Regions from separate parts of the Homo sapiens genome. Here region 2 is linked to region 1. Evidence: fine-mapped expression QTL. A gene starts in region 1. The other region holds a variant in brackets. All regions are shown on one strand. Distances are from middle to middle. Region 1 holds the start of GPR78 (G protein-coupled receptor 78). Region 2 overlaps CPZ (carboxypeptidase Z).

The links. PIP is the estimated chance that this variant, and not a neighbour inherited with it, causes the effect.
Region 2: its variant is fine-mapped to the expression of GPR78 in ovary (GTEx, PIP above 0.99).

The regions. Positions count from the first base shown.
Region 1 is chr4:8,578,869-8,583,219 of GRCh38, forward strand. GPR78 (G protein-coupled receptor 78) reads left to right here and starts at 1,524. Exons shown (of 3, transcript NM_080819.5): 1 at 1,524-2,782; 2 at 3,663-3,776. The coding sequence starts at 2,115. RefSeq lists an enhancer at 1,684-2,345.
Region 2 is chr4:8,601,586-8,605,966 of GRCh38, forward strand. CPZ (carboxypeptidase Z) reads left to right here. Exons shown (of 11, transcript NM_001014447.3): 4 at 2,391-2,603. It overlaps LOC124900659 (a long non-coding RNA gene), which reads right to left. Exons shown (of 3, transcript XR_007058014.1): 3 at 4,142-4,381. Among named protein-coding and RNA genes, the nearest start is that of CPZ, 11 kb to the left of the region's middle. The variant G/A (reference allele first, on the strand shown) is at 2,130.

The DNA.
Region 1 (4,351 bases):
CTTTGGAGTAGTTGAGAGGTGACAGAGGCTGCTGTGAGTGGCTAGACCAAAGTCTCCCTGTGAAGCCACGTGATGACTCCACCGCTCCCCAGAGCTGCACATGGTCGCTCAGAAGCCTTGGAGGGGTTGGGGGAGGCCCCTGCTCTCAAGCCCCCACTATCACAATCACTTTGTCCCAGCTATTCACCTGCAAACTTGCTTGATCTGCAGAAGCTGCAGAGTGGCCCACTCTTCCTGGACATGTCAGGAAAACTTTGACGTGGCTGCTCTAGCTTCAGGGAAGGTCTAATTTGGTGAAAATTTGAAAGCAGGTTTGTGGGAGTGCCAGGGAGAAATGGGGAGAGAGAAAGCCTCTGTATTTGATGGATGGCAATGGCTTGGAGCTGGTGTGATGGCCTCTCTGGATGACAAGGACATTGGACTTAGAGCCAGAAGGACTGAGGTATGAATCTCGGCATTCCTGGTTTGTAGTTATGGGGACTTGGCAGAGACACTTGAATGAAACTTCCTTTGCCCAGGTATAAGACGGACCCCCTAATAAAGGTTGACTGTGTTCTGATCCTTCACTGCCTGCTGGGATGTCCTCAGCATTTTGTGCATGTTGGCCAATTTAACCCTAACAGCAACCACCAGAGGCAGATGCTATTGCTGGCTATTAATATCCCCATGTGACAGATGAGAATGTGAGGCCCAAGGGGTTTAAGTGGGGCTATGAATATCCCCATGTGACAGATGAGAATGTGAGGCCCAAGGCACAGAACCAGGGGTGCCCCAGCATGCCAGTTGTGCACCTGTGGCTTTTCCCTTGGCCACTTTGCAGCACCGGCACGAGAGAGGCCCACAGGGTGAGCCTCCACACCACCAGCCACCCTTTGTCCCTCAGAAAGGGCTGGCAGAGCCTGCAGGTGAGGGTGGGTGTGGGGAGGGGTGGGCAATCGTCTGCCCTTCATTTCTGTCATGTTGTGGCTGTCACTGGGGAGAAAATGCCAAAAAGCTTCCTGGAAGAAGCAGCTTCCAGGAGGCTTCACCATATCCTTGTCCTGCCAAGTGGCCACGAATGGATTAGAAGATTCCCACTGGGTGAGAAGGCTCAGAAGCCACCACAGAGGATGGCGGAGGTGGGAGAGGCCTCGCACCGCGGGGCTCCAGGAGCCAGGTGAAGGACAGGCATTTCTGTATGGCACCCAGTTCTGGGTGGGTCCTCCCAAGGTGCCCCCTTCTTTGTCTCTCCCTCTGTTGCTTTTCTCTCCTCTTCCCTCTTCTTCCCCCCACTTCCTCTTCACTTTTTCTTCACTTTTTCTTCTTCTTCTCTTTCCTTCCCCCATGCCTTTCTCAACCTTGTTTCCACTTCTTGTCGCTCTTCTTGCTTCAACAAACGTCGATGCAGTCACAGTTCCTGGGCTGAGGCTGGGGGATGGGAGGAAGTCCTGAGGGCAGCCCCCGCCCCCTTCCCCGCCCCGTCACTCCCTCTGCCCCGCCTGCACAGCTTCTTGCCAATTCATTCCCGCCCCTACCGCCCCTATAAGCCACCAGGTCGCTCCAGTTTGGTGCCAGCGCCTGGAGGGAGAGGCGTGGCGAGGGCTGTGCTGCCTAGGATCCACTGAGTGGCTCTTGCTGGCGTGTCAGCTGCGCGCGAACCAGGGCTGGGAGGCTCGGCTGGAGGTGTGACCAGGGCAGGGACTGACCTGGCCCGGAACAGAAGCGCGCAGAGTCCCATCCTGCCACGCCACGAGGAGAGAAGAAGGAAAGATACAGTGTTAGGAAAGAGACCTCCCTCGCCCCTACGCCCCGCGCCCCTGCGCCTCGCTTCAGCCTCAGGACAGTCCTGCCGGGACGGTGAGCGCATTCAGCACCCTGGACAGCACCGCGGTTGCGCTGCCTCCAGGGCGGCCCCGGGCTGCTCCTGCTCCGCAGAGCTACGCCCTCCCCCCGGGTGCCCCGGACCCTGCACTTGCCGCCGCTTTCCTCGCGCTGCTCTGGACCTTGCTAGCCGGCTCTGCACCTCCCAGAAGCCGTGGGCGCGCCGCTCAGCTGCTCCATCGCCTCACTTTCCCAGGCTCGCGCCCGAAGCAGAGCCATGAGAACCCCAGGGTGCCTGGCGAGCCGCTAGCGCCATGGGCCCCGGCGAGGCGCTGCTGGCGGGTCTCCTGGTGATGGTACTGGCCGTGGCGCTGCTATCCAACGCACTGGTGCTGCTTTGTTGCGCCTACAGCGCTGAGCTCCGCACTCGAGCCTCAGGCGTCCTCCTGGTGAATCTGTCTCTGGGCCACCTGCTGCTGGCGGCGCTGGACATGCCCTTCACGCTGCTCGGTGTGATGCGCGGGCGGACACCGTCGGCGCCCGGCGCATGCCAAGTCATTGGCTTCCTGGACACCTTCCTGGCGTCCAACGCGGCGCTGAGCGTGGCGGCGCTGAGCGCAGACCAGTGGCTGGCAGTGGGCTTCCCACTGCGCTACGCCGGACGCCTGCGACCGCGCTATGCCGGCCTGCTGCTGGGCTGTGCCTGGGGACAGTCGCTGGCCTTCTCAGGCGCTGCACTTGGCTGCTCGTGGCTTGGCTACAGCAGCGCCTTCGCGTCCTGTTCGCTGCGCCTGCCGCCCGAGCCTGAGCGTCCGCGCTTCGCAGCCTTCACCGCCACGCTCCATGCCGTGGGCTTCGTGCTGCCGCTGGCGGTGCTCTGCCTCACCTCGCTCCAGGTGCACCGGGTGGCACGCAGACACTGCCAGCGCATGGACACCGTCACCATGAAGGCGCTCGCGCTGCTCGCCGACCTGCACCCCAGGTATTGGCCCAGTGCATGCCGACAGGCCCAGGCCAGGGACTTGGGCGCTCCCTGGGCAGTTGGCTTGAGGAGCCTGTGGGCATCACCACCGTTACTCCGCCCAGAGTTCACCAGCCACAGCACTGCCCCTGCACGCTGCTCACAGGGGTTTCCTGTTGGTTCATTGGTGCAGACACTGCGGGGGCCTCTGCCTCCTGGGATATGTGCTCAGTGCACAGGGAGCTTTGCGCAGAGCTGTGGGGTGTGCTTCTCCGGGAGGGGTTCCGCGGGCTCTGCTGTGGGCGGCCAGACACACCCCTCCTGTGCATGGCTGTGGGTCTGAGGCATCTGCTTGTTTCTGCCCACTGCTGACCCAGTGCCCTTGCATGGACTTGGGCTTCAAGTCTTGAGCAGGGTCCATCCCCCATGCTTTCTGCTCACTACTTGGCAGGATTTGTCTCCTGAATCTCTAGCTGGTGTCGCCATTGTTCCAAATTACCTCCTGTAGGTGTTCCCCTTTCCCCCTTGGCCCCCCACAGAACACCCAAGAGGCTCTCCTGCTCCTGGGGTGGGCAGGCCACGTGACTTCTCCCTCCTTGAGGGCCCCAGCCTTGCCCCTCCATCAGCAGCCTGCCTCAGTTGCCTCTGTGTGGAGAAGGATGAGCCAGAGGGAAGGGAGGAGGAGCTGGCCCTTCTTTCCAGACTTCCTTTATTTCACCTACAAAAAAGCAAGCCTACCCCTTGTTCTTTCTCTCTCCCCCATCCCTCTGTCCTCCTCAGGTTCCAGGCTAAACATCCTCCTGAAACCCTCCTGTCTGCCCTCACTTCAGCCCCTGGGCTCTGGGCCTGGGTTCTGTCCCCACCCTGCCATCATCCTGACCACTGTCCTCTGTCCCCACAGTGTGCGGCAGCGCTGCCTCATCCAGCAGAAGCGGCGCCGCCACCGCGCCACCAGGAAGATTGGCATTGCTATTGCGACCTTCCTCATCTGCTTTGCCCCGTATGTCATGACCAGGTGGGTCCTGGCAGTCCGGCTCCTGTTGTGGGAACAGCTGGGTGGGCTTGGCCTCAGTTGAGTAGGCCTCTGAGGTTTCCCAGCAAGATATCTGGAGGGCGGCCACCACCAGAGGACCCTCCTCCACACCTGACGGGCTCAGGGCTGTGCTTCAGCTCCTGGGAAAGATCCTGGGAGGGAGGTGGCACTGGCTCCCATCCTGTCCTATAAATGAGGAGACTCTCCTTGTCCAGGCACAGGCAGATATGGGGTCTGTGAATCAGCACCTGGCTCTTTAAACCTAGAAAGCTTTCAAAATCAGGCAACCTGGGACTAACTCAGGCCTCAGACTCCGCATCTCCTGGGCGTGGAGTTGGGAATCTGGGTGGAAGCTCCAGCTGGAGCCTCGGGGCAGTAACACTGCCAGGTGAGTGTTCTCTTTGCTTCTCTCTTTCCTGGAGACCTTGGCCTGAGTGCTTGTCAGGTCAGAATTACCTGGAGTCACAGGTAATTTGGGAAAGAGTGTGTGTAAAGGGCCTGCTGGTACCATCATCACAGTGCTGTGCTGAGGGGCAGGGGAGTCTGTAGTTTTTGCC
Region 2 (4,381 bases), 23 kb after region 1:
TTTCCATCGACAGTGACGGTGCAGGCATTGGTAGAGGGCGGGGCTGCTCCCCGAGGCAGCATGTTCCCCACAAAAGGGTGCCAGGCAGGGTCGGGGGCTCAGTGCAGATGGAGGATCCTCTCGCTGCCCAGGGCCCCCTAGCAGAAGTCTCCAGCCCCTTAGAGGCAGGCTGGGGTGGAAGGGTGCTGAGTCCAAGTGGGGGCAGTGCCCCCGCCCAGGGTGCAGTGAGCAGGCCTCGTGTGGGGGAGCCTGGGCTCAGAGTGCAGGGCTGGCCCTGGGGGTCCAGTCCTCAGCCACAGACCCTCCAGAACCATAGTGCTTACCCCTGGTCAAGGGGGGGCGGGGCATTTACATCCCCCGGGAGGTCTGGCGGGCAAAGCTTCACGATTGCTCATCGCTGGGCCTGGAAGATCACACAGAGGGTTTGGCTTGGAGTGACTCCTCCAAGCAGGGTCTGCACCGCCCTGTGGGCTCAAGGAGGGAGAGGAGCTGTGGAGAAATGCTTTGATGTCTCTTGCAGATGAAACAGTGGAGGGGGAGTGGGCAAGACTGGGCCACCATGGGCCACTTGTCTCTGAGGTGTGCAAAGAGGTGCCAGAGGGCCACTTGGCAGCGGGGCTGGTTGGGGGCCCTGCATGGAGTCCCCTGTGTCTGTTGTCTCACGAGTCGGTGTCCACCAGAGACCCTGCATGATCCGCAGCAGTCCTGGCCCGTTAGACCTTTCTGTGTAAAAGAAATGTTCTATTGTGTTCTGTCCAAGACAGTTACCACTGGCCGCATGTGGCCCCCAAGGCTTGGGATGTGGCTCTTGCCACTGAGGCCTGGATGTGGGCGTTTCATCGCATTTGAATGAGTCTGAACCTGTCTTTGAAGAGCCTAGGGCCAGTGTGTGCCACATTCAACTGTGCAGGGCAGTGTCCGCTCATGGTTGGGTTCAGAGGATCTGACTGCGGGTGCCACACATGTGCTAGCTCACGCGAGTCTCACGACAGCCTTGCTCCATGGAAGAGGAAGTGGAGCCTCGGGAAGGGTGACAGCAGTGGGGTCTTTAGCTGGAGTGGCCCAAGCCCATTGCGGATGGAGGGATGGATTTGGCCATTTGTCAAACAGCTACCGAGCACCCACTGTACATGTGGCTTTGTGCTGGGACATTGAGGAGGGCAGGAGAAGGAAGGCAGACAAACACCCGGGCCGGGCTCCAGCAAGCCCTGGGTTCCGGGCTATGTCAGGTGCTCAGGGCTGAACCTGGCATGTCTTGCAGCCTCTGGCTCCCAATCTGAGAAGGGTGGACCCTGGGCTCCCATGCGATGCAGCGGTAGGGGGGGTGCCCTTTGCCAGCAGGTGGGAGCCGTCTGTCTGCAGAGCTCAGTCCCTGTAGAGGTGGTGGAGCTGCCTGTGGGAGGCCAGGGAGGCGAGGAAGGAAGCCAAGCCCACAGCCCTGGGAAAGCCCAAGGAGTCGGTTGGAGATTATTTTGGGCATCTCTACCACCAAATTGCCGGCTTCCTCTGCTAGTCTTTCCCCTGGAGAACCGTTTTGAGCAGAAGCAAAACCACAGGGCAAGGAGAAGCTTAGAGGAGCACATTAACTCTCTGTGGACCCAGGAACAGCCTGCGGGCACCTGCGTCCTGCTCCTGTGGGCCTGACTGCTGCAAAGCCCCTGGCGGGGTGGAGGGAGCTAAGCGTCATCGGGGTGGCCCTCAGGGCACCTCTGTTCTAGTGGATGACAGGATGGTGGGGAAGCTGGTGCGTATGTGGTGTAGAGACGTTCGTATTCTAGTTCCAGAACCCCTCCCTCTTCCCCAGCCCCCTTTTTTCTTCCTCCCCCAAGTACTTCCCAGAGCCCCCCTTTCTGTTTCCTTCCTGGACAGGCACTCACTGTTGTACCGATGAGGTTGTAACAGAAACACTGGGAAGCCTCACAGCAGCCGGAGGGGGCACCACAAGGAGCCTTCCTGTTTCCACCATTAGCCAAGCAAATGAAGCAGAATACTGAACTGCCTGAGTGCCACTGTCATGGAAAACACGCCCAGGAAAATCCCCTCTGCACACCCAGCAGGGGTTTGCCTTGGGGGGTCCAGGACCCCATATATCTGTCTTCCTTTCTGTTGTCCTGCTCCGTATTTTAGGA[G/A]CTTCCCACAGTGGCCCCATAGTATGTTTACTCACAGTCACGTTAGGAACCATGGCGCTGTGCTGTGTACATACCTCAGGTGCCGTTTGGCTTAGATATCGTTGTAGGCACTGCAGAGGGAACTCTAATTAAAGATAGAGATGTCCAAGCATGGCTGTCGTGCAGAGGGGACTAAGGGTGCTGTGTGTGGTCAGCGTTCCCAGGCAGTGGTAGGAAGCCTGGGGGCCTGACACTGACTGAGCCCCCCCACTGCTCCCCCAGGAGGCCTGGAGGCTGACGAGGCACTGCCCTCAGGGCTGCCGCCCACCTTCATCCGCTTCAGCCACCACTCCTACGCCCAGATGGTGCGTGTGCTGAGGCGGACGGCCTCCCGCTGCGCCCACGTGGCCAGGACCTACAGCATCGGGCGCAGCTTCGACGGCAGGGAGCTGCTGGTCATCGAGTTCTCCAGCCGCCCCGGCCAGCACGAGCTGAGTGAGTGCCCTTGGGAGAGCCTGGCCTGGCCCCGTTTCGGGAAAGGGCTTGGGCCGCTCCACCTTCGGGTGCACAAGTTGGTGGGGTGTTTGGGGTCCTGGGCAGAGCTGGGGGCCTCAGGGAGCTGCTTGGTGCAGGCCACGTCCCGCTGGGCATGTGCAACCACTATATGTATAAAGAAGAATTTCTCCAGATATCCATCTTACTTCAAAATGTAGGGTGGCAGACTAGGTTATTTCATAATAATGGAGACATTGATCTAGTGGCTGAAAAGATATAAAACAAACAAGAAATTTTATTTTATTTTTTTGAGACAGAGTTTTGCTCTTGTTGCCCAGGCTGGAGTGCAGTGGCACGATCTCGGCTCACTGCAACCTCTGCCTCCTGGGTTCAAGCAATTCTCCTGCCTCAGCCTCCCGAGTAGCCGGGACTCCAGGCATGGGCCACCACACCAGGCCAATTTTTGTATTTTTAGTAGAGACAGGGGTTTCACCATGTTGGCCAGGCTAGTCTCGAACTCCTGACCTCAAGTGATCCGCCCAGCTCGGCCTCCCCACTCAAACAGAATCGGTTATTTTAGAAGCAGCCTCCATTTGACCCTTGGTCATCACCAGTTACTGAAAAATGCACCTGCTCTTTGTTTATGGACTCAGGGCCTTTTCAGTGCTGGCAGCCTCAGCCAGTCTTCATCCTACTGGTCTGGGCAGCATGAACACCATGAGCCCAAAGGCTCTATCTCTTACCAGGGGCCAGAGGCCACCTGGCCACACCCTGGCCCCCAAGGCTCACTATGTTCCCTCTCCAACTGTAACATGCTCTGGGCAGGAGGCAGAGGCTCTCCCTACAGCACTGGAATTTGAGGGCAAGAGGTGCCCCTGTGCAGAAGGCCAAGGGAGGTAACCAGCGCAGAAAGCTCCCAGGTCATTTATACCCCGGGATGTGGCATCTGAGGAACACGGGTGTTTCCTCTCATCCCTGGCTGTCCCTGGGCCACACACAGCTGGGGAGGGAGACATCATTTTCCAGGGGAGCAAGTGCGAGGCTTAGAGAGGAGGAGTGACTTGCCTGCAGTCACACAGCCAGTAAGGCCATGGGGCCTGGTCCACTCTTCTTCCTATAGTCCATTCATTTATTCATCCATCCATCCATCCATCCATCCATTTATTCATTCAGCCATTACACATCCATCCATCATCCACCCATTCATTCATACATCCATGCATCCATCCACTCATCATCCATCCATTTATTTACACACCCATCCATCATCCGTCCATCCATTCATGCATCAATTTATCCATTATTTCATCCAGCCATTATTCACTCATCCATCCATCATTGATTTATCCATCTATCCATTCATCCATCATTGATATATCTATCCATCCAGCCATCCAGCCAGCCATTATTCATCCATCCATCCATCCATCCATCCATCATTGATATATCCATTCATCCACTCAAGGGCCAACCACCTTCCCAGCTAAGTACCAATGTGCACTTTGACTTATTACACAAACATGAAGAGAGACCATCAGTTAAATTTGCATGAATCAATGATAACATATATTATTCATATTCTTGAGTTATGCTAACTAAGAATTCTGGCTAGGCATAAAAAACGAGCTTAACAAAAGTGATGACCTTGATGAGACCTCATTATATACAGAGGTTCTTGAGTCAAAACAAGTATGAATTGGTCCCAGCCCATCTGGTCATTCTTGCTGAGTGGGGGGGCCTCATGCCTTTGGGGACCCCCGGCTTTGAGATGATGCCCC